3 separate regions of the Homo sapiens genome follow, and all the other regions are linked to region 2. The links come from fine-mapping of genetic effects on gene expression. A gene starts in region 2. Each other region holds a variant in brackets. All regions are shown on one strand. Distances are from middle to middle. Region 1 overlaps LOC112267988 (a long non-coding RNA gene). Region 2 holds the start of TCAF2 (TRPM8 channel associated factor 2). Region 3 has its middle 17 kb from the start of CTAGE6.

What was found. PIP is the estimated chance that this variant, and not a neighbour inherited with it, causes the effect. A credible set is the group of variants that fine-mapping cannot tell apart.
Region 1: its variant is the best candidate, but not a certain one, in a credible set for the expression of TCAF2 in fibroblasts (GTEx, PIP 0.73).
Region 3: its variant is the best candidate, but not a certain one, in a credible set for the expression of TCAF2 in thyroid (GTEx, PIP 0.55).

What each region holds. Positions count from the first base shown.
Region 1 is chr7:143,842,915-143,851,477 of GRCh38, reverse strand. It overlaps LOC112267988 (a long non-coding RNA gene), which reads right to left. Exons shown (of 3, transcript XR_007060571.1): 1 at 8,226-8,563; 2 at 6,976-7,116. TCAF1 (TRPM8 channel associated factor 1) reads left to right here. Exons shown (of 9, transcript NM_014719.3): 9 at 1-103. Among named protein-coding and RNA genes, the nearest start is that of TCAF1, 55 kb to the left of the region's middle. The variant C/T (reference allele first, on the strand shown) is at 3,486.
Region 2 is chr7:143,617,201-143,625,763 of GRCh38, reverse strand. TCAF2 (TRPM8 channel associated factor 2) reads right to left here and starts at 4,790. Exons shown (of 8, transcript NM_001363538.2): 1 at 4,744-4,790. It overlaps LOC101928466 (a long non-coding RNA gene), which reads left to right and starts at 7,055. Exons shown (of 4, transcript XR_007060573.1): 1 at 7,055-8,563. RefSeq lists a silencer at 4,726-4,885.
Region 3 is chr7:143,736,597-143,745,159 of GRCh38, reverse strand. No RefSeq gene overlaps it. Among named protein-coding and RNA genes, the nearest start is that of CTAGE6, 17 kb to the left of the region's middle. The variant G/A (reference allele first, on the strand shown) is at 4,685.

The sequences.
Region 1 (8,563 bases), 230 kb before region 2:
GGAAACTGTGTTTTTCATTTTAAGTCCTTCTGTACTATTTAATTTTTTACCTTGTGCATGTATTACTTTGAAAAAATTTTTAATAAACCCAAATAAAAATCTTCCAGTGACTTCACATTGATTAAGATGCAACCCAGCTAAAGCCTTTAAAATGGTTTTCAAGGTCCTCAAGTATCTAGGTCCACTTGATGTGTCCAGGCTCATGATATCTCCCCACAAGTCTCTATTTCCAACCAGATTAAGTATCTTCCAGTTATTAAAACACACTTCACATTCTTTTGTTTGTATAGGTGTTCCACAAAAAACAAAGCCTACTGCTGATCTCACCATGTCTGCTGAGTAAGCTTACCATCTAGTGGGTTTTAATATTTGTTGAATGAAGGAATGTCCAATACAGCATTGAATGAAGTTTGCCAACTTCATTCTTTTCCAAGAAGGCCTTTGATGTTTGCCCCTGTTCTGGGAAACATTTCAAGAAGGACCATCCAGGGCCCTAAGCTTTCCTGCACTCCCCTTCATTTGACAGCTTTAATAAGTTTTAGTCTTATATGAGGCCAGCTAGTGTCAGAGCATTTCTGTCCATCTGTCAGTCTCCCTGGTGTACTCTTTGCTACTTTCCCTGAACATCGTAACCTCTTTTCAGCTATTTTTAACCCTGTACTTGGGAGAAACAGCCAACTATCTAGTGGAAATCTTTAGGCCACCAAGTTTCTTTTTTTTAAGTTTTATTTTACTTTTAATTGACTCATAATAATTGTACATATTTATAGGGTATAGTGTGATGTTTTGATACACGTATATATTTTGTGATGATCAAATCAGGGTATTTAGCATATTTTTCACCTCAAACATTTATCATCCCTTTGTGGTAAGAACATTCAAAATCCTCTCTTCTAGCTATTTTGAAATATACAATATAATATTGTTAACTATAGTCACCCTACTGTGCAATAGAACACCAGAACTTATTCCTATCTAACTGAACCTTTGTACCTGTTGACCAGTCTATCCCCATCTCCCCTGCCCCACTACCCTCCCAAGCCTCTGGCAACCACTATTCTACGCTCTGCTGCTATTAAATCAACTTTTTAAATTATAGAATCCACTTTTGTGTGAGATTGTACAGTATTCGTCTTTACATGCCTGGCTTATTTTACTTAACATAATGTCCTCTGGGCCCAATTACGTTGCCACAAATGACAAAATTTCTTTTTATGGTTGAATAGTCTTCCATTGTATATATACACCACATTTTCTTTATCCATTCATCCACTGATGGACACTTAGGTTGATTCCATGCAACTACTGTGAATAATGCTGCAATAAACATGGGAATGCAGATATCTCTTCCACATAACTGATTTTATTTCCTTTGGATATATACTCAGTAGTGGGATTCTGGATCATATGGTACTTCTATTTTTTAACTTTTTTAGGAACCTTCATTCTGTTTTCCATCATTGCTGGACTAATTTACAACAGCATATGAGACTTCCTCTTTCTTCACATCTACCCCAACATTTGTTATTTTTTGTCTTTTTGATAATAGCCATTCTAACTGGACTGAGGTGATATGTCATTATGGTTTTATTTGCATTTCCCTGATGATTAGTGATGCTAAGCATTAGTATGTCTTCTTTAGAGAAATGTCTATTTAGGCATTTTGCCCATCTTTAAATGGAATTATTTATTTTTCTGCTATTGAGTTATTTTTCTATATATTCTAGGCATTAACCCCTTGTCAGATGCATAGTTTGCATATGTTTTCTCCCATTCCTTAAGTTAACTTCAATCTGTTTCCTTTGCTGTACAGAAGCATTTTAGTTTAATATAGTACCATTTCTCTATATTTGCTTTTGTTGTATGCTTTTGAGGTCTTATTCAAAAAATTCTTGCCGAGACCAATGTCATGAATTGTTTCTCCCATGTTTTCTTCTAGGATGCTTACAGTTTCAGGTCTTACATTAAAGTTTTTAATCAATTTTGAACTAATTTTTACATATGGTAAGAGACAGGGGTCTAATTTTATTCTTCTACATGTGGATATTCAGTTTTCCCAGTGCCATCTATTGAAAAGCCTCTCCTTTTCCTAATGCATGTTGCTGACACTTTTGTTGAAAATCAGTTGGCTGTAAGTGCATGGATTTATTTCTGTTCTGTATTCTGTTTCAGTTATCTATGTGTCTATTTTTATACCAGTACCATGTTGATTTGGTTACTATAGCTTTATAGTATATTTTAAAGTCAGGTAGTGTGATGCCTCGAGCTTTATTTTTGCTAAGGATTACTTTGGCTATTTGGGGTCTTTTGTGGTTCCATAGAAGTTTTAGGATTTTTTTTTCTATTTCTGTGAAGAATAGGGATTGCATTGAATTAGTAAATTGCTTTGGATAATATGGACATTTTGACAATATTAATTTTTGCAATTCATTATTATCTTTCTATTTATTTGTGTCCTCTTCAATTTATTTTATCCATATTCTATAGTTTCCACTCAAGATGTTTCACCTCCTTTGTTAACTATATTCCTGGGTATTTATTTTATAGCTATTGTCAGTGGATTGCTTTCTTGATATCTTTTTTTAGGTAGCTTGCTACTGGCATATAGAAACACTACTGATTTTTGCATGTTGAGTTTGTATCCTGCAACTTTATTGAATTTATTTATTCTAACAGTTTTTTGTGGAATCTTTAGGATTTTCTATATATAAGATAATGTCATCTGCAAACAAGGACAATTTGACTTCCCCCTTTCCTATTTGGATGCCTTTCATTTCTCTTGCCTAATTGCTCTGGCTTGGATTTCCAGTAGTATGTTCAACAAAAGTGATAAATGCGGCATCCTTGTCTTATTGCAGATCATAGAGGAATAGCTTTCAACTTCTTCAGTATGATGTTATCTATGAGCTTCTCATTTATGGCCTTTATTGTGTTGAGGTATATTACTTCTACATCTCATTTGCTGAGAATTTTTATCATGAAGGGATGTTAAATTTTATCAAATTTTTTTCTTTGTCTATTAAAATGATTATGTCATTTTTGTCCTTCATTCTGTTAATGTGATGTATCACATTTGTGATTTACATATGTTAAACCATCCTTGCATCCCTGGGATGAATCTCACTTGATTGTGGTGAATTATTTTTTCAATATGCTGTTGAATTTGTTTCACTTATATTTTGTTAAAGATTTTTGCATCTATGTTGATAAAGGAGATTGGCCTGTAGTTTTCTTTTTATCAAGTTATCCTTGTCTGGTTTTGATAATGTTGGCCTCATAGAATGAGTGTGGAAGAATTTGCACCTCTTCAACTTTTTAGAATAGTTTGAAAAGAAGTGATATTATTATTTACATGTTTGGTAGAACTTAGCAGTAAAGTCATCAGTTCCTGGGCTTTTCTTTGACGGGAGACTTATTATTACTGATTCATTCTTGTTACACATTATTGGCCTGTGTAGGTATTTTATTTCTTCATAGTAGTTCAA[C/T]TTTGGTAGGTTGCATGTGTCCAGGAATTTATTTATTTCTTTTAGGTTTTCCAGTTTATTGGCATATAATTGCTCATAAAAGTCTTCTATGATCCTTTGTATTTCTGTGACATCTCCTTTTTTAGCTCTGATTATATTTATTTGAGTCTTCTCTTTTTTGTTAGTCTAGCTAAAACATTTGTTTATCTTTCAAAGGACCAACTTTTTGTTCTACTGATTTTTATATTATTTTCAGGCTCTATTTCACTTATTTCTGCTTGATCTTTATCAGTCTTCTCTTCTAGTAGTTTAGGGTTCAGCTGGCCCTCGTTTTTCTCATTCCTTGAGGTGCCACATAAAGTTTTTATAAAAGATTCTTATACTTTTTTGATGTAGGCATCTATTGCTATAAACTCCCTCTTAGAATAGCTTTTGCTGTATCCCATAGGTCTTGGTACATTATGTTTCCTTTTATTTGTCTCAAGGAATTTTTAAATTTTCTTTTTAATTTCTTTATTGATGCCCTGGTTTTGTAAAAACTTGTTTTTAGTTTTCACATATTCGTATATGTTCCATAGTTCCTCTTGGTATTCATTTCTAGTTTTTATTGCATTGTGGTAAGAGAAGATACTTGATAAGATTTTGATTTTTTTGATTGCTTGAGATATGTTTTGTGGACTAACATATATTCTATCGTGGAGAAAAGTTCCATGTGCTGTTGAGCAAAATGTACATTCAGTAGTTATTGAGGGGAATGTTTTATAAATATCTGCTGGGGCTATTTGGTCTAGAATGTAATTTAAATCTGATAATTCTTTGTTGATTTTCTATCTAGATGATCCATCCATTGCTGAAAGAGGGTGCTAAAGTCCTTTTTTATTTTATTTTAATTTTTCTCTCCCTTTAGATCTCATAATATTTGCTTTATATATTTACTTTATATATTGGGTGTTCTGGTGTTGTGTGCTCATATACTGACAACTGTCCTAACCTTCTGCTGAACTGATTTCTTTATCTTTCTTTATATAATGACCTTCTTTTCTCTTTTGACAGTTTTTTACTTAAAGTCTATTTTGTCTGATGTAAGTATTACTACCCCTGCTTTGTTTTGGTTTCCATTTTCACAGAATTTCATTTTCTCTTCTTTCACTTCAGTCTATGTGTGGCCTTATAGGTGAAGTGCCTATCTGGTAGGCAGCATGTTGCTGAATCTTGTTTTTTTTTTTTTTTAATTTAATCCATTCAGCCACGGCGTATGTTTTAATTGGGAATTTATTTCATTTACATTCAAAGTTATTATTGATAGGTAAGGACTTCTGCCATTTTGTTCATTATTTTCTGGTTGTTTTGTTTATCCTTTGTTCCTTTCTTCCTCTCTCATGTTTATCTCTGTGGCTTGATTAGGGTATTTGTTGTGTTAAGCTTTGATTCCTTTCTCTTTCTCATTTGTATATCTGTTGTAATTTTTTCTTTGTGATTAGTATTGGGGTTACATTAAAAATCTCTCATACTTATAATAGACTATTTTAAGCTGATAACAAGTTAACTTTCATTGCATACCAATACTCTAGACTTTCATTCTGCACCCAAATTTATAATTTTGTTGCTTTAATATACATCTTTATATATTGTTTATTCCTTAACAACTTATCATTGCTATAATCATTATTACAATTTTCACTTTTTGGCATCCCACAGAGCTGCATTTTTTTAATTATTATTATTTTTTAAATGGGGTCTCATTATGTTGCCCAGGTTGGACTCAAACCCCTGGGCTCAAATGAGCCTTCCATTTCAGCCTCCTAAATAACTGGGACTACAAGCACATGCCACAGCACCCAGCTGTTTTGGCCTTTAACCTTCATACTAGAGGTTTGAAACATTACATATCACCATTGCAGTAATGAAGCATTATGAATTTGATAATGCATTTATCTCCAGCAGTGAGATTTATACTTCATGTTTTTTTATGGTAGCAATTATCATGAAAACTTTTTTTTCCAATAGAAATACTCAAGCATTTCTTGTAAGTCTGGTCCAGTGGTAATGAGTTCCCTCAACTTTTGCTGATCTGGGAAAGACTATTTCTCCTTCATTTCTGAAGCAAAGATTTGCTGGTATAGTATTCTAGGCTAGCAGCTTTTTTTCTTCTAGTATTTTAAATATATCATCCCATTCTCTCCTGGCCTGCAAGGTTGCTGCTGGGAAATCTGCTAATAGTCCAATGGCAATTCCCTTATATGTGACTTGATGTTTTTCTCATGCTGCTTTTAGTATTTTTTTCTTTGTCTTTGACTTTTGACAGTTTGGTTATATGCCTCAGAGAGGACCTCTTTGAGTTGAATCTTTGTGGGATCCTTTGAACTTCATGGATCTGGATGTCCATATCTCCCCAAGACTTGGGAAGTTTTCAACTATTACTTTGTTAAATAAGCTTTCTTTGCCTTTCTTCATCTCTTCTTCTTAAGTTGCCAAAATGCAAACATTTGTTCACTTATGGTGTCCCATAAATGCCATAGGCTTCTTCATTCCTTTTTTTTTTTCTTTACCTCTGACTGGACTATTTCAAAAGGCCTGTTTTCAAGTTCAAAAATTCTTCTGTTTGATCTATTTTGCTGTTGAAGCTCTCAATTGCGTTTTTTTATTTCATTCATTGAATTTCTTGGCCCCAAGATTTCTATTTTGTTCTTTTTTATGATATCTCTCTCTTTGTTGAATTTCTCATTCAGATCATGAACTGTTTTTCCCGATTGTTGAATGATCCGTTTGTGTTCTTTCATGTCTCACCAAGTTTCCTTAGGCTCACTATCTTGAATTCCTTTTCAGGCAATTCATAAATTTTTATTTTTTTATTGGGGTCAGTTACTAGAGAATTATTGTGTTTCTTTGGTGGTGTCATGTTCCCTTGCTTTTTTATGTTTCTTGTATCCCTGCACTGGCATCTGTGCATCTGATGGAATAATCACCTTTTCTAACTTGGTAGCATAACTTTCAGCGGAAAAGACTTACACCTGCAGATGTGTCCTAGCATGTTGGTTGGGTAAGGTACATTTGTTTTTGTTCTGGGTGGATGCAGTAGTGTAGTCTCCATGCAGCTTCTTTAGCTGTAGTTAATGTCAGTGGTGCCTGCAAGTACCTCAGTGGCCTTGGCTGCAGAAGTTTGTGTGGCTGGTATGCCCACTCAGCTGCTTGTCCCCTGAAGGCTGGGCACTTAGCTGGTCTGTTTTCTGAGGATCCATGGCTGGTAGGTTCTCCTTCGGTGCTTATCTCTTGGTGGCTGCATAGTGAGCTGGTCTGTGCTCTAGGGAAGTGCAGGGCTGGTTGTCCAGTAGCTCTGCTCAGTTGCTGCTCCTCTGGAGGCAAGGCACCAGACTGGTTCATACTCACTACCAGGTTACCAGGTTTTTTGTGTCCTACTATCCCTAGTTTCTTGGTAACTGTTCCTTCTCCATCTTCATTAACATTTCTGTCTGAAGGTAAATATTTGTATAATACAAAGACCTTTTCTTACCTGAATTAGCATCTGTCCTATTTTCCATGTATCATAATAGAGATTTACCCTCACAAATGGGAGTAGTTTCCAGATTGCCCATGTTATCACAGAAATAACCCAAATTATTTTATCTTCTGCCACACCACTGAGTCTGAATTTCTGTAAAGAGAAATTGAAATATGTCATGAGTTTACTTTCCTCTGTTGTCTAACTCCCATAGTCAACTGGAGCTCTCTGATGAGTATTGGCCTTGCAGCCAATCTTCAAAGCAGTATTTATCAGAAACACTTCCTATCTCCTCTTCACGGGATTAATCTGATCTATTTAGTGCTTAAAGCAATGTCCTCACCCAAGGTCAAAACCTCACCTAATATATGTACCTAACAGGCCAACAGGTAACTAGGCCTTAGATGTTGACTCTTTTTTGCCAACAAAAGTAGCAGACTCTATCCCTTCTTTCAAGACTATTTCCCTCCTCTGTTCTCTACTCCTTACAAAGCCTTTGTACTCCTGCTTGGCTTCTACTCTTAAAATGATTTCTTTCTTTGACCCACATCATTGCAGTCAGTCTTCAATAGGGAGTGGGCAGAAGGTGATCTTCAACTTCTCAGAGATCTTTCTTCTAACTACACAAAAAAACAACTTACCTCACAATCAAGACAACTAAGAAATGCTTCCTATGCATTTGGATTCTTGTGCATTTCAGTGCTATAAAGAAGCATTTCTTTGATAGGAAAGCTTGAGTAGCTTAAGTTATTGATGTTCTAGTCTGAGACTGGGTGCGTTTCATAGGTGCTCATTATATTAGAAATAAATAGAATAAAGGGATGAGTAAATAAATGAAAGATAAATAGAGGTTGGGAAGCAACTGCAACTTAAAAAAAAAATGTAGTGACCAATGATGACAGTTAGGAACCAAGGTTTATTTTAATACAAATATGTGTACCTGAAGGTCATTAAAAAGTTACTTCTATTCTTAGGAACTCAAATATACATAATTGGTTAAGAAATCTGTACATGTAGGTACTAAAAAAATATTTCCATGAATCGCTTAGTGACATAAAATTCATTTTTCACATACTGCCAAAATTATTTAGAATATTTAAAGTCTGAGATAGTGCCCAAAGGGGGTTAGGGGAGGACAAAATGATCAAACATACAATATAAAAACAATCTATAAAAGAGTCTAGAAGAGATCTCACAGGTTTAGAGAGAAGACCCCTCTTCTTCCTGAACAGACCCCGTAGGCCAGGGCCCAGCAGGCTTACCTATTGTCTGTGGTTTCTGTGCTGCAAACAGGAGCCTAAAACCTGCAAATAGGTTATAAACCTTTTCTTGACCCTCCACCAAGGTAGATAGGCAAGTGGAGCTTTAATAAAACAGAGTTTTTCCTTTTCTTCTTGCTGCTTGTGTAGCCTTGGAGCCGACCTATTCCAAAGGAGAAAATAATAAGCCTTAATTAAGGCTTTTGACATTTAACCACAAGACAACTGGCACTATGAGCTTGTTGCTCTCAACACCTAGAGCAGAGTTAAATCTCAGATCCTCATAGAAAACTCTGAGATAAACTATTTCAGCTGGCAAAAGCATTAAAAGACAAACAACT
Region 2 (8,563 bases):
AAACAAACAGGCTTGATCAAGACAAATTCTCCTACACTCCCTTGTACCTACTCCTTGCCCTCTGCCTCAGGGTCACAGAACAGCTGCCTTCAGCTATTCTCCCCTGGAGCTTTGCAGAGCCTTCCGACCTTATAGAAGGGCCACTCCCTTTCCCTTGGAACATACTAAGCAGGCTTCCCTTCCAGGTTTTCTCACCCTCACTCCTCACTCTGCCTGGAATCTTCCTCTCACAGATGCCCACATGGCTCATTCCCTCACTTCCTTGAGGTCTCCTTTCAAGTGCTACCTACCAGACCAGCCTTCCAAGCCGGCCATGAGCTTGTTTGCACTCATCTCTATTCCCCTTTCATCTTGGTCATCCTCCGTGTTGCAGAAAACTGCATTTCTTTGGTTCTCCTGTTCCCTGGATCCTGGTGGGTTCAGCCCATGGGAGAGAGAGGTAGAAGACTGAAATCAGGAAGGAAGAAGGAAGGAGTTTAAGTGCTTGCTTCTCTCTTCAGGCTGTATTTCTGGTAACCACAGTGTCTTCTCTGAGACTCCAGCTTCTAGCAGACAGACCTTTCATCTGTGGTTCCAGCTCCTGCTGGGAAGGCATAGCATGGCTCCAGCTTCTACCAGGTGGCCGCAGCACCTGGACTTCAGTAATACCACCATCTCCCTCTGCTGGTTCTGCTGTTGCTGATCTCTGGGTTACTTGCTGTCCCCTGTGTGTATTTTCAGCTCCTCTATCATGGGTATAGTCAATTCCCCATACTAAATCCCTTCTGCTAGCAACGCCAACAAATCCTGACCAATCCAACTTGGTCTGACTGATAGGACTTCCCTGAACATCTTAAATAAAATAGCCTCCATCAGCCTTCCTGTTGTCATGCTATCCACTTATATTATCATCTTTCATGGATCTTAGCAATACCTGATAGAGCACATATATATTAGTTTCCTTAATACCTATCTCTCCCCTGGAATACAAACCTCATGATGGCATGACTTGCCTGCCTCGATCTCTGCTAGACCCCCATTGTCCAGAATGCAGCATGATCAACAATCGGTGCTCACACAAACAAACAAATATTCTTTCATGCATTTAAGAGGTATTGATGAGCACTCTCTAGGTTCTATTTACTAGACATGGAGATAAAGTGGTAAGACAAGCTTTTCTATTCAGCTTTGGCCACAGGAGGGAGTGGCAGTGAGGGCCCAGCCTCTCTTGTGTCTTGGTGCATTTTAATCATCCTGCTTTTGATTTGTGGTGGTTCCAAACTGAGTGGAAAATCACCTGTATTGCAATGGAAGCTTGTTGAAGAGGGGAACCAACTCTATTGTTTATCCTGAGTCAGACTCCCTAAGAGGGGAACAAACACTCACCTGACATGGAGTGGGATCTTGGGCACCTTCTTAGAGACCTTGAACCGGTCTCTGTCCCCATAGGTGTCAGTGAAGTACACTCCGGCTACACTTGTCACCTTGTTCCCAGGGAACCTGGAGAGCACCTTGTCAGGGCCGTGCTGGCTGGCCCAGTACCAGGCCTGGCCCCCGATTAACAAGCCCCCTCCATGTTTCACAAACTGGATCAGCGTTGCAGTCAAGGTGTCATTGTAGGCATTGATACAGTAAACCCCTAGGGGCTCTCCTGGTTCTGGCTTGACCTGTGCCTCAAGCCCAGCATCCTGTAGGATGTTTACTAGAGGTGCCAGGGATGGACGCACTCCCACGGGAGCCCCAGGACAGGGACAGAGCCAGCTCACTGCATTGAGGAGAAATGAAGCCAAGCCAGCATGCGACAGGTAGCCCTCATGGGACACAACCACGAGGCGGCCTCGGCCGTAGGAGGAGGCAGCAATGAGCACCTGGCCCTTGTCATTCACCATCACGGGGAAGGCGGCTTCTCCAATAAGAAGGAGTTCACTGGGGATGGGGCCTCTGGGGACATCCCAGCATGTCACTCCATCCATGAGGGCCTCAAACGCAGCAGCAGCAATGGTCGCCATGGTTCTATCAGCTGCTGCAGGGGGAAGCAAAGACTTTCATGTATTTAAGAGATACTGATAAGCACTGCTGGTCAGAACAGATGAAGGAACAGGTGAAAAAAGCAAACAACTAAATGCATTCACCTCCAAATTTTACTGGATTCCCCATTGTGGGCCAAGCACTGTTCTAGCACTGGGAGTACAGCAAGAAACAAAACAGATAAGGTTTCCCTTTTCGTGATTTGAATATTTTAGAAGGAGAAAGATAATGAATAAATAGGTAGATAAACAGATAAATAAAATGCAACAATCACTATGATGAAAATAAAACACAATGATGTGACATGGAGGAACTGGAAGACTACTTTAGATTGGGTGATAGGAAAGGACTCTGACAAAGTGGCATTGAAGCTGAAACCTGAAATGCAGTGAGCAAAGGGCATTCCAGCAACGAGACCACTTTGGGGTGGCTGAGAGCCAGGAGCAGGGAGGAGCAGGACCCCAGGAGGAGGGAGGGACGGGCTAGATCCTGCAGGGCCAGTAAATCAAGGTGATAGTTAAGTTCGTGTGCCTGAGTGGACACAGTGCTTGATTTTTTTGAACAGAAAGGTCATAGACCTGTCAAAACATGCCTTTCTTCTGACAGCTTTGCTAAGTTGGAAAGTGCCCCCTAATTTATCAAATCTGCCCTAATGGAGAGGACCCTCCTCTATTTGGTAGCATTATGCAGTTTCCGGAGGTCTTTTAAAATTGGCTGTGCCTAACACTGAGACTATTTGTCCCTTTAAGCAGCCCCTCTTGGATAAATGACTTCAGTCTCAGTTTCCCCATCTACAAAAAGAGAATAATACAGCCATGGGAAGATTGTTTTTGAAGATTAAAGGAATATGGATAGGCCAGGCGCAGTGGCTTATGTCTGTAATCCCAGCACTTTAGGAGGCCGAGGCCGGTGGATCACCTGAGCTCAGGAGTTTGAGACCAGCCTGGCCAACATGGCGAAACCTGTCTCTACTAAATCTACAAAAAATAGCTGGGCATGGTGGCGTGCACCTGTAATCCCAGCCACTTGGGGAGGCTGAGTCATGAGAATTTCTTGAACCCTGACGGTGGGGGGCGGAGGTTGCAGTGAGCCGATATCGCACCAGTGGACTCTAGCCTGTGCGAGAGAACAAGACTCTGCCTCAAAAAATAAAATAAAATAAAATAAAATAAAATAAAGTAAAGTAAAATAAAATAAAGCAAAGAATATGTCTAAAAATGCCTTGTCTGGGGTTGGTACACATACAGTGAGCACGGAATAAACGAGAGTGTCTGTCCCTTTGCTGTCCTTTTAAGTTTCCCGGGTTGCCGAGGGCAGCGTTGCAGATTGCAGTAGTGCAGTAGTCCCCTGGCTGCCTGTGCCGCCTCCCTTTGCGCGTCTCTGACGAGCCCACTGTAAGGGACTTTCCTCTGTGCTCTGATGGCTTCTCACCTCTGCAGGTGCACAAGGCAGCCCTGAAGTAGCGGTGAGTTGACACTAGGGTGAGCTTCGCCCAGTAGAGCGGGGATTCACAGAAGAGTGCCCCGTGGCTTTCCCGAGGTGCCCATCAGAGGTCCTCGGAAGGCACCCGGAGGAAAGGAGCGCCATGTGGAAGACCCTCAGCCACATGCTCCTCCTGGCTTTCCCTTTTTTCCTTGTCTCATTCTCTCCACTTCCTCATTTGGGCTTTTTGGTCTCACTTACCCCCAAAAAATTACCTGCAGGTAAGCCCTTGCATAAGGCTTTGCTTTAGGGCAGAATCTAAACTAAAACACACACCAAGCCCTTGAGCCACAAGTGCCTCCTTCCTCTCTCCCTCCTGCTTCTATATGCAGTCAACCACCTCATTTGGTTAATCTCTCACCATCTCTCTCAAACATCAGTCCCTTTAGTTGGCAATCATTCCAGACTAAACCAATATGGTTTTAGTCCCCAGGATGTATTCTCATCCACAATCGTCCTCTACAAGAACTCTAACAAGAACCGTTACATTTCGTCCACTCTCTCTAAGGTGAAACTTGCAGAGCGCCTCAGCCTGGCTTCTCCAGGGTCTGGCATGCCAGTGATTACTGGACGTTTTTCCTGCTACTTTCTTCCACTAAATCTCTCCAAGCTCGGAAAGGTTGGCATTCTGAGCATGCCCTGCATTTCCTGTAGAATTCCATCTCTTCCCCTCTTCCCTTCCTATCCGCCACCTTTTTCTTAATACTGCTCGCGGGAAAGAAATTCACAAAAGAGAGCCAATACTCGGCAGAGCATTGAGAATGCGGGTACCTGATCTCAGCCTCAGAAGTTACCAGTGGAAAAAAGCAGCCGAGAGAGATCCGGAAGCCTGAGCTCAAGATCGTGCTAGCTACCTCCCAGAAGACAAGCGACGTCTTTCACTTCTGGGGCAGTACCAGTTTGACAGGATAAACAAAAACAGACAAAAAACCTCAGATGAGTAATATGTCCCGGAAAGCTGACCCAGCATTCCGCAACGAAATGTGCCCTCGTGCACGCACACACCATGCACATCTTTGTCAAATTCGTAATTTACAAGTTCAAATAGGAGGGAGAAACGTGTTTTGAGACAAACTGCAAATAGCACCAGACTAACAAAACGAAATGAAACCAAAGACCTAGACCTAAGAAGGGAGGGACACCCCCTGACGCCGGGTATGGTCTGGGGCCTCCAGCACTTTGCGGCGACCCCCAGTGCCCTAGGTGCTCAGCTACCGCCCCCACCCCAGGACCCGCTGGGATTGGAAAACTCACCCCTGAGCAGTGCGGATACCTAGGGACTGACGGACAGGCTCTGCAGTGGCGCGCGGGGGACGGGTCGGAGGCGAGGCGGGGCGGGGCGGTCCCGGAGGCGGGGCGGTCTCGGAGGTAGGGGCCGTCCTGGAGGCGGGGCCGTCTCGGAGGCGGGACTGTCCTGGGGACTGAGCTGTCTCGGAGGTGGAGTCCTGCGGTCCCGGAGGCGGGTTGTACCGTAGGCGGGGCTCTCTCGTAGGCTGGCCGGTCCTGGAGGAGAGGCTGTTCTGGCGGCGGGGCTGTCTTGGAGGCTAGGAGGTCTCGGAAACTGGGCTGTCCCGGAGGCGGGGCACAGGCTGGGGTGAGGCGGAGCCGACCCTGAGGCGGGCCCGGGGCGCGGCTACCGCTCCCTGAGCCACGCCCGTGGTCTCCCGTTCCATCGGTGGACCCCACCTCGGGCCGTGCTGCGGGCTCTCGGGGCGCCTACCAGGTGAGCGACCCCGCCTTCCCGGAGGGATGCTTTGGCCTGCATGGGGCCCCAAACCGGCTCCCTCAGGGTCTCTGCGGGTTCTTGGATGCGAGAGGGGACCCAGCCAGTTTGCTGTCGCACTTGATAAGAAAAGCAAACCCTAAGTCTCCAATAAACCATATTTGGGGCGAATAGTTCCCTAACAACAACGTATGCCACGGGGGAGGCCCCGCGTGGAATCAGGCTCCCTTCCCTCCGATCTTGGGGTGGGCTCAGCAGAGCCGGTAGCCGCCGCGTCGCCTCCGTCGCTCGAGCCTCTGCGTGGAGGGCTGCCCCCTAGTGGTCAGCTGCGGGCCATGCACTTCGAGCCCGGTGGATGCTTATGGCCATGGTGCGGGGTGCTCAACTAGGGCATTTTTCTCTCAAAGTATCCACAGAAATGCTGCCCAGCAAGTTATATTCTTGCTGGGAGGGAAACGTGCCTGTGGCATCACTAACACAGATTCGTCCGTGCATGGCTGGAGAAATTAAGCTAAAGCTATAGAGTGGCTGGTGCTCGAATTTCTACGCAAGAGAGGTCAGAAGGTGAAAATCAAGGTGGAAGGGTGTGGTCAGGAGGAGGATTTGGTGTAGTCTGGAGTTTAGGAACGTCTTACCTAGGAAAGTGATGACTGTGCTAGAATGAGGGGAAAAAAGTAGTCTGTCTGCATTTTGCCCACCATTGAGTCCTCATTGCCTATTTTCATTTCTGACATAGAATAGGCTTTAGTTTCTTAATAAATAACTAAATATATGCTAAATAAATAAGGATATAGTGAACGTCCAAAAATATCTGTCGAATTAGTGAGTTAATAACTGACTCTTCGGAGGACTAGTGGAAATCTGATTGGCAGAGGACCAAATACATTCAGGTTTCAGAAATAAAGAGCAAGGAGAAACTTACACAGAAAAGAAATTGTGGATAAGACTTGCCAGAATTTGGAATAATTCCGGCTAGAAATCCAACGTGCGGTGAAGTACGTTGAGTTCTTAGGCTTCATATCAGGGAACAACTGACCTTTGGGAGCTGAAGTGGGAGATGGACATCAAAGAAAGTGGGTCAGTAAAGTTCCACGTTAAAAGCTGATTCAGGCCCGGGTGCGGGGGCTCACTCCTGTAATCCCAGCACTTTGGGAGGCCGAGGTGGGTGGATCACCTGAGGTCAGGAGTTCAAGACCAGCCTGGCCAACATGGAGAAACCCCGTCTCTCCTAAAAATACAAAAATTAGCCGGGCGTGGTGGCACAGGCCTGTAATCCCAGCTACTCGGGAGGCTGAGGCAGGAGAATTGCTTGAACCCGGGAGGCGGATGTTGCAGTGAGCAGAGATCATGCCACTGCCCTCCAGCCTGGGCGACAGAGCGAGACTCCGTCTCAACAACAACAACAAAAAGCTGGCTCGGTATCTTTTGTGTGTTTGTACTCTTAGGTTTTAACCAGTCTCCACCTACATCAACCTCACTCCTCATGGTAAAGTACTACTATTGTTCTAAATTAACTCCTGAGAGTATTTTGGTGTTGCTCTAATAGAAGAAAGGGGCTTTAAACAAAGGTGATTTTTCCAGGGTCAGAGAGCAGAAAGTACCTGCCATTTGGGAGCAGGAGCTGCCTGAGGAATGGAACCTAACAACATAGGAACGGCATAACGGTTCCTAAAAAAAAAAAAAAAAAAAAAAAAGAAGAAAAAAAAGATTAAAGATGGTAACCAGCATTTACGTTCTGACTAAAGGGTGTCCGAGAGAGAATACAGTCATGGGTTCTTAGTTTCTGTTTTTGGTTAGGCGAGTAAAACCCCTTCCTCATCCCTCTTTTCCCCTTTCACTAGAGACAGAAACTAAAAACCGTGAGTTCAGGCAGCTAGAAACCTAAAATAAAAGAAAACGGAACAACAACAACAACAACGAAAATAAGGTGGGTTGGATAAGCTTCGAAATGGTTACTGCTTATGCAAAGGTGCAGGCCCCAGATCTTTCCTTTTACTTGGGAGAAAACAGACGCCATTCAGTGAAAGTCAACATATCCTTACTGGACACTTATTCTGTGAGGCACTCTGGGAGATAGAAATGCTATTATGGTCAGTAAATCTAGAGAGGAAAAAAGACAAGAAAACAACTATACCAAAATTGGCTACGAATCAGGTGCAAGGGCACATAAAAGAAGCAGCAATTATTTCTGATCAAAGGATTAGAGAAGAATGTGCACAGAAGGTGACACAGAAACTCAGCTTAGAAAAATGTATATTTGCGGGGAGATAAAGGGGAAGGTATTACAATGTGAGGCTGTATAAGATTCCAAAGCACAGAGATATGAATGTGAAAGGCTTAATTTGAGAAAGACAAAATGTTCATAGTGACTGAAACTTGTTAGCAGAACTTGCATAGTGCTAGCTCTAAAGAGAAGTTTGGGCTCGGTTTAGAGGGACTTTGGCTGCCATACTAGGGAGTTTGGATTCCATTCTACAGTGTGGAGGAAGATTTTTTAAAAGCACCATTTAGTAAACACTGTGGTTGCCTCCTCAACATCTATTCCCTACACTACCCCTATTGTCCTTTCTAACCAAATCCATTTTTTTTTTAAATCAGATAATCCACCTCTCCTTTATGAGATTCAGGGGACAATGAATTCATCTCCATTTCCAAGGATAGATCTGTATTAGCTTAAATCAGGCAGGCTAACTCATACTTCTTGTGCTTCCATGACAGACTCTTTCTGGGTTATACGTAATAAATATACATAAACAATATTATACTTCATTGTCCAGCATATACAAGAGGCAAACACAAATCAGAAATATTATCTTTACCAGTGGTACATGAGTCCATTTTTTGTCAAATAGAGAGCAATTGCTGCAGTAATTGCAGTTTATCACTAAGCCAGATGCAGGGGTTACTCATACATATGCCTTCTAATTGTGGGCTACTATTAATAGTCACTGGCCTCCTTCTTAAATTATTTTCAGTCATGAGCTTAACTTAATGTGGTACCATATATTCTTTCTTTTAAGGACCTTAAGAATCTGGGAAGAATTAGCCACACTCTAATTTAGGAACAGAGATGGATGAATCCACCTATGGACATTTACTGGTATGAGTCACTGGGGAAGTTCACTAAGTCACTATTTAAGATGATCCAGAACAGGTGTCTACAGCTGCCTTAAGAATGAGTACTATGGTGGTGATGAAAATGTTCCTCTCAGATGTCCAACTGCAGGGGGTGGGTATGAAATTGCCAGATGGCCCCAGCTGGTGTGCTCTGGAATCCTTGGCGCCAAGGCCATGCTGCCAGGGGCTTCTCCAGGCTGGTGATCAAATGTAGTGAGGATCCTCAGGCAGGCC
Region 3 (8,563 bases), 120 kb before region 2:
AGCCAAAGGAAGCCATTAGGGACTGCACTGTGACAAATGGTGCACTCTGGCCCAGATACTGCACTTTTCCCACGGTCTTCACAACCCACAGATTGGGAGATTCCCTCCAGTTCCTATGCCACCAAGGCCCTGGGTTTCAAGCACAAAACTGGGCAGCCATTTGGGCAGACACCAAACTCGCTGCAGGAATTTTTTTTTTTTTTCCCATAACTCAGTGGAACCTGGAACACCAGTGAGACAGAACTTTTCACTCCCCTGGAAAGGGAGCTGAAGCCAGGGTGTCAAGTGGTCTGGCTCAGTGGGTCTCACCCCCACAGAGCCCAGCAAGCTAAGATCCACTGGCTTGAAATTCTCGCTGCCAGCACAGCAGTCTGAGCTCTACCTGGGACGCTCAAGCTTGGTCGCGGGAGGTTCATCCGCCATTGCTGAGGCTTGAGTAGGCGGTTTTACGCTCACAGTGTAAACAAAGCCGCTCTGAAGATTGAACCGGGTGGAGCCCATCACAGCTCAGTAAGGCCACTGTGGACAGACTGCCTCCTTTCTGGGCAGGGCATCTCTGGGAAAAAAAAAAAAAAAGCAGCAGCCCCAGCCAGGGGCTTATAGATAAAAAACCCCGTCTCCCTGAGATAGAGCACCTGGAAGGAGGGGTGGCTGTGGGCGCAGCATCAGCAGACTTAAACATCCCTGCTTGATGGCTCTGAAGAGAGCAGCGGACCTCCCAGCACAGCCTTGAACTTCACGCTCTGCTAAGGATCAGACTGCCTTCTCAAGTGGGTCCCTGACCTCTATGTCTCCTGATTGGGAGACACCTCCCAGTAGGGGCCAACAGATACCTCATACAAAAGAGCTCTGGCTGGCATCTGGCAGGTGCCTTTCTGTGACAAAGCTTCCAGAGGAAGGAACAGGCAGCAATCTTTGCTGTTCTGCAGCCTCCGCTGGTGATACCCAGGCAAAGAGGGTCCTGCAGCAAACTCCAGCAGACCTGCAGCAGAGAGGCCTGATTGTTAGAAGGAAAACTAACAGACCGAAAAAAATAGAATCAACATCAACAAAAGGATGTCCACTCAGAGACCTCATCCGAAGGTCCCAACATCAAAGACCAAAGGTAAATAAATCCACGAAGATGGGGAGAAACTAGCACAAAAAGGCTGAAAATTCCAAAAACCAGAAGGCCTGTTCTCCTCCAAAGGATCACAACTCCTCACCAGCAAGGGAACAAAACTCAATGGAGAATGAGTTTGATGAATTGAGAGAAGTAGGCTTCAGAAGGTGGGTAGTAACAAACTCCTCTGAGATAAAGGATCATGTTCCAACACAATGCAAGGAAGCTAAGAACCTTGAAAAAAGGCTAGATGAATTGCTAACTAGAATAATCAGTTTGAGAAGAACATAAATGACCTGATGGAGCTGAAAAACACAGCACGAGAACTTCGTGAAGCATACACAAGTATCAGTAGCTGAATCGATCAAGTGGAAGAAAGGATATCAGAGATTGAAGATCAACTCAATGAGATAAAGGCAGAAGACAAGATTAGAGAAAAATGAATGAAAAGGAATGGACAAAGCATCCAAGAAATATGGGACTATGTGAAAAGACCAAATCTATGTTTGATTGGTTTACCTGAGAGTGACACAAAGAATGGAACCAAGTTGGAAAACACTCTTCAGGATATTATCCAGGAGAACTTCTCTAACGTAGCAAGACAGGCCAACATTCAAATTCAGGAAATACAGAGAACACCACAAAGATACTCTTTGAGAAGAGCAACCCCAAGACACAGAATTGTCAGATTCACCAAGGTTGAAATGAAGGAAAAAATGTTAAGGGCAGACAGAGAGAAATGTCAGGTTACCTACAAAGGGAAACCCATCAGACTAACAGTGGATCTCTTGGCAGAAACTCTACAAGCCAGAAGAGAGTGAGGGCCAATATTCAACATTCTTAAAGAAAAGAATTTTCAGCCCAGAATTTCATATGCAGCCAAACTAAGCTTCATACATCAAGGAGAAGTAAAATCCTTTACAGAGAAGCAAATGCTGAGAGATTTTGTCAGCACCAGGCCTGCCTTATAAGAGCTTCAGAAGGAAGCACTAAACATAGAAAGGAACAACCAGTACCAGCCACTGCAAAAACATACCAAATTGTAAAGACCACCAACACTATGAAGAAACTGCATCAACTAGCAGGCAAAATAACCAGCTAACATCATAATGACTTGATCAAATTCATACATAACAATATTAACCTTAAATGTAAATGAGCTAAATACCTCAATTAAAAGACACAGACTGACAAATTGGATAGAGTCAAGACCCAGTGGTATGCTGTATTCAGGAGACCCATCTCACTTGCAAAGACACACATAGGCTCAAAATAAAGGGATGGAGGAAGCTACCCAGAAAAAAGGAAAGCAAAAAAGAAGCAGGGATTGCAATCCTAGTCTCTGATAAAACAGACTGTAAACCAACAAAGGTCAAAAGAACCAAAGATGGGCATTACATAATGGTAAAAAGATCAATGCAACAAGAAGAGCTAACTATCCTAAATATACATACACCAATACAGGAGCACCCAGATTCATAAAGCAAGTTCTCAGACACCTACAAAGAGACTTAGACACCCACACAATAATAGTGGGAGACTTTAACACCCTACTGTGGATATTAAACAGATCAACAAGACAGAAAATTAACAAGGATATTCAGGACTTGAACTCAGCTCTGGACCAAATAGACATCTACAGAACTGTCTACCCCAAATCAACAGAATATATATTCTTCTCAGCACCACATTGCACTTATTCTAAAATTGACCACATAATTGGAAGTAAAACACTCCTCAGCAAATGCAAAAGAATAGAAATCATAACAAACAGTCTCTCAGACCACAGGACAATCAAATTAGAACTCAGGATTAAGAAACTCACTCAAAACCACACTACTACATGGAAACTGAACAATCTCCTCCTAAATGACTACTGGGTAAATAGGTTCATTTGGTCTATAGTGCAGATTAAGTCTGATTTTTTTTTGTTGATTTCTGTCTGGAAGATCTGTCCAATGCTAAAAGTAGGGTGTTGAAGTCTCCGGCTATTACTACACTGGGGCATATCTCTCTCTTTAGCTCTAATAATATTTGCTTTATATATCTGGGTGCTCCAGTGTTGGGTGCATACATATTTAAAATTGTTACATCCTCTTGCTGAATCGAGCCCTCCGTTATTATATAGTGTCCTTCTTTGTCCCTTCTTATAGTTTTTGTCTTAAAATCTATTTTGTCTGATATAAGTATAGTGAATTCTTCTCTTTTTTTGGCTTCCATTGGCATAGAATATCTTTTTCCATCCCCTTATTTTCAGTCTATGTGTGTCTTTATAGGTGAAGTGTGTTTCTTGTAGGCAACAGATGAGTGGGTCTTGTTTTTTCAAGATAACCTGACTTCAAGTTTATTAGCTCTTTATTCTGCTTGCTCAATTCTGCTATTAAAAGACCCTGATGCATTCTTCAGTATGTCAATTGCATTTCTCAGCTCCAGAATTTCTGCTTGATTCTTTTTAGTTATTTCAATCTCTTTGTTAAATTTATCTGATAGAATTCTGAATTCTTTCTCTGTGTTATCTTGAATTTCTTTGAGTTTTCTCAACACAGCTATCTTGATTTCTGTGTTTGAAAGTTTACGTATCTCTGTTTCTCCAGAATTGGCCCTGGGTGCCTTATTTAGTTTGTTTGGTGAGGTCATGTTTTCCTGGATGGTGTTGATGCTAGTGGATGTTCTTCATTGTCTGGGCATTGAAGAGTTAGGCATTTATTGTCGTCTTCAATGTCTGGGTTTGCTTGTAGCTGTCCTTTTTGGGAAGGCTTTCCAGATGCCTGAAAGGACTTGAGTCTTGTGATCCAAACTGTATCTACTTTAGAGGGGCATCTCAAACCCAGTAACATCATGGTTCTTGCAGACTTGTACAAGTACCACCTTGATGGTCTTGGACAAGATCCAGGAGAATTCTCTAGATTACCAGGCAGAAATTCTTATTCTCTTTTCTTACTTTCTCCCAAATGTACAGAATTTCTCTCTCTCTGTTCTGTGCCACCTAAAGCTGGGGGCGGAGTGGCACAAGCACCCCTTTGGCCACCACCACTATGACTGTTCTGGGTTAGACCTGAAGCCAGCCCAGTGCTTACTGGGTCTCACCCAAGGTCTGCTGTAACCACTCCCTGGCTACTGCCTACATTACCTCAAGGCCTTGGGACTCTACAATCAGTAAATGCCAAAGCCAATCAGGCCTATGCCCTTCCCTTCAGGGCAGCAAGCTCCCCTAAGCCCCAGAAGTGGGTCCAGAATGCCATCTGGGAGTCAGGGACTAGAGTAAAAACCCTTAGATGTCTACCTGGTGCTCTCTTGTATTGCAGCTGAACTGGCACTCTAACCACTAGATGCAGTCCTTCCCACTCTTGCCTCCCCTTTCCAAAGGCAGAGGAGCCTCACCCCATAGCCACCACCACCCAGGCCACAAGGAGTACTGCCAGACTACCACCAAAGTTCCCTTAAAGCCCAAGATCTCTTAAGTCAGCTTGTCATAAATGCTACCTGTCCTGGGACTCCCATGTTAGGGCAGTGGGTGCTCCTCTGGCCCAGGGCAGGTCCAGAAATGCTGTCCAAGAGTCAAGTCCTAGAATTGGGGACCCC[G/A]AGAGCCTGACTGGTTCTTTATCCTTCTGTGGCCATGCTGGTACCTAAGGTGCAAAACAAAGTTCCCTTTACTTTTTCCTCTGCTTTTCTCAAGCAGAAGTTTTGCCCCAGAGCCACCGCAGCTAGTAATATCCTGAGTCTCACCTGAAGCCAGCAAGCCTCAAAGGCTCACCCAAGGCCCTTGGTGTAGTACTTGGGTATTGCTGCTGGTTATTCAGGGCCCAAGGGCTCTTCAGTTAGCAGGCGATAAATGCTGCCAGGACTGGGTCCTTTCTTTCAAGGCAGCAGGTTCCCTTCTGGCCCAGGGTGTGTGTAGAAATGTCATCTGGAAGCTAGGGCCTGCAGTGGGGACCTCGTGACTCTGACTGTTGCCCTGTTTTGTTGTAGCTGAGCTGGTATCCTAGGTGCATCACAAAGTCTTTCCCACTCTCCCTTTTCCTACCTTCAACTGGAAGAAAGAGAGGTCTTTCCGAGCCATAAGTTGTGCAGCCTGGGTTTATGGGAGGGTTGAAGCCAGCACTCCCTTAGCTGCCCCAGCTAGTGTTTCTGTACGCCACATGCAGTCCCAGTTCACTGTCTCTGGGCCTAGTTCAGCACCAGGACTCACCTAAGAGTTTCAGTCTTTATGGCCCAGACTGCCTTTCAAGTTTACTTGGAGATACAGAGTGTTATAGCCCTCGGTGGTGAAGTTTGCAGGCACTCAAGTTCTAACTGTTGGAATCAGTGATTCTCCTCTGGCTAGGCCTGGTTTAAATGCTCCCTCTGTGGGTGGGTGTCAGCTGAGTTTGGTCTGGTTTTCCTTTCTGCTCTAACAAGACAGCACTGAGTTCAATGCCTCACAATTGCTGTATTCTTCCTTCCCCAGCACCTAGAGACGCTCTCTGCACCACGCCATGATTGCTGAAGGGTGCAGGAGGGGTGGCATACTTGATTTAGGACTGTTTTTTTTCTATCTCTTCAGTGCTTGTTTCAGCCATATGAAGTTAAAACCAGGTACTATGAGGGCTCACCGGATTTTTGGTTCGTATGAAGGTATTTTTTCTGTGTAGATAGTTGTTAACCTGGTGTCCTTGTGGTGGCAGGGCAGACTATCAATGGAGCCTTCTATTCCGCTATCTTGCTTTGCCTCCTCCCCTCTGGAAAACTAATTTTTAAAAAATCAATTCTCGGCCGGGCACAGTGGCTCATGCCTGTAATCCCAACACTTTGGGAGGCCGAGGTGGGTGGATCACAAGGTCAGGAGTTGAAGACCAGCCTGGCCAATATGGTGAAACCTTGTCTATACTAAAAATACAAAAATTAGCTGGGCATGGTGGTGGGTACCTGTAGTCCCAGCTACTCGGGAGGCTGAGGCAGGAGAATCACTTGAACCCAGGAGGTGGAGGTTGCAGTGAGCCAAGATCGTGCCACTGCACTCCAGCCTGGGCGACAGAGCGAGACTCCACCTCAAAAAAAAAAAAAAATTCAAGTCTCCACTAATTGATGCATATTCTTAAAAAATTACTTAGAATCAAAATCTCAACAGGGTTTTTCATTATTGTAGTTGTTTACTCACTTGTTTTAGTGGAATGCAACAAGCTGGTTTAAAAATTTAAATGGAAGCACAAACAACCAAGAATAATTGTGTGTTCTTGACAAAAACTAAGGTAGAATAATTAGCAAGATTTATTATGAAGATATTACAATAGTATAGCATTGGCATAGAGATGAAGAAAAAAAATAGAAAAGAATAGAGAGCCTGCAAAGAGATCCACACAGATCCAGACTTTTGGCCCCGTAGATGAGGCAGAAAGAGTGAACCTTTCAATGAACAGTGCTATAATTAGGAATCCATATTTTAAAAAACTACAGTTGTATTCCTAGTTCACTATGCCCAAAACTCATTTAAACTTAAAAATTTATACAACTCTTTGAAGATAATATAGAAAAATCTCTTTGTGGAATTTGGGTAAACAATTTTTTTTACTCATGGTACAAATAGTATTAATCATAAAAAAGATTAATAACTTTGACTACTTTAAAATTAAGAAGTTGTGTTTATTAAAATACACCACAAGAAGAGTGAAAATTGGCCCAGAGTGGGAAAAGCTGTTGGCCACACATGTAACTGACCAAGTTTATATATCTAAAACATTGTGACATACAGAAAATCCGATAGAAAAATACACAAGAAAATGGAATGAGCACTTCAAAATAAAAGCAAAAATCAAATGTTTAGTTAATATATGCAAAGCTGCTTAACATCATTAGTAATGAGGAAAATGCAAATTAAAACCACAATAATATATTACTATGCACTCATCACTTTGGAAAAAAAAGTATTTCATAATATCAAGTGTTCCTAAGGATCTAGAGCAATGGAAACTCATATACTCTAAGTGATATGATTTATCTTTGACTTGTCTTTATCTACAGCTTGGTTTTATCTAAGAAGGTTGAAGCTATGCATATTCTACGATACAGCAATTCCTTTCCTAGGGTATGCCAGAGAAACTCTCGCACAGATATACATGTAAAGGATGTTTGTAGTATCAGATAGGCCCCAAATAAAAACAATCAAAAACCAATCAGCAGCAAAATAGATTAACTGATTGTATTATAGTTATATAACTGAGTATTAGGCAGAAAGAAAAATGAAGTAGAGCTACACAAATCAACACAGACGATGTCACAGTATTGCACTAAAGAAGCAAGTCATAAAAGATTACATATAATATAACTTTCTTGTATTCTTATACAGTTTAAAACAAGTTAAAACTAAACTATGTAGTTTAAGTTTGTGCACATAGGTAGTAAAACTAAAGGAGCAAAAGGAATGATCACAGAAGTCAGATTAGTGTTCCATCTGGTGGTAGGAGAGGGACAATGAACTTGGAGGAACATATGGAGGACTTCAATTATTGGCAACATTCTATTTCTTAATCTGTTGCTGATCTGATTGTTCCCTTTCTAATTATTATTTAAATTGTACATATGCTTTTAGATACATTTTTTATGAGCACAGTGTATTTCATTAAAAAAAGAATATTGTTGGGTTGCATCTTCTGACACTAAAAGTAAATTGGTTTGGGAAATTTTTATGGATAACACAAGTAGAGAGCATATTGACCAGTCAATTGCTTCATGGGAAGGGTAACATAAATATCTCTTTTAAATTAAAACCACGGCAAGAGACTGTGTTTGCCACAATGGGAACAATTTCACTGTTTCAACTGGTGATCAGGAGCTGAAAGGTTTTCTAAATGGCCACAAGGGAGAGACAAAGAACAAAGATTCTATGCAGAGGACACAGAACTTAAAATGTCGAGGGTTCATTCAAGATAGGAGTGACTTTAATTCCCTTTAGCAGTGCGTGTTATTCCATTTTAACAATATTTGTGAGCAGTAGGAGCTTTGACGGTCCCATTTAGTGTGACCAACCACTAAGGCTTTAATTTTTTCTGAAACTGTTTCGAAATACTAAGTTTTCAAATAAGTCAGGGACTTTAAGGCATTCAGGGGAGGAAATACAAGCAGGGTCATTTTAAATAAAGGTAGGGTCATCTTTAAGGCTGGTCGCTGTTGCTCATGCCGGCAATCCCAGCACTCTGGGAGGCCGAGGCTAGGTGGATCATGTGAGGCAGGAGTTCGAGACCAACATGGCCAAACCCTGTATCTACTAAAAATACAAAAATTAGCTGGGCATGGTGGCAAACACTTGTTGACCCAGCTATTTGGGAGGCTCAGGCAGGAGAATCACTTGAATGCAGAAGGCAGAGATTGCAGTGAGTTGAGATTTCATGACTGCACTCCAGCCTGGGCAACAGAGCGAGACTCCATCTCAAAAACAAACAAAACCACCACCACCAACAACAACAATAAAAACCCACTTCTTTAAAA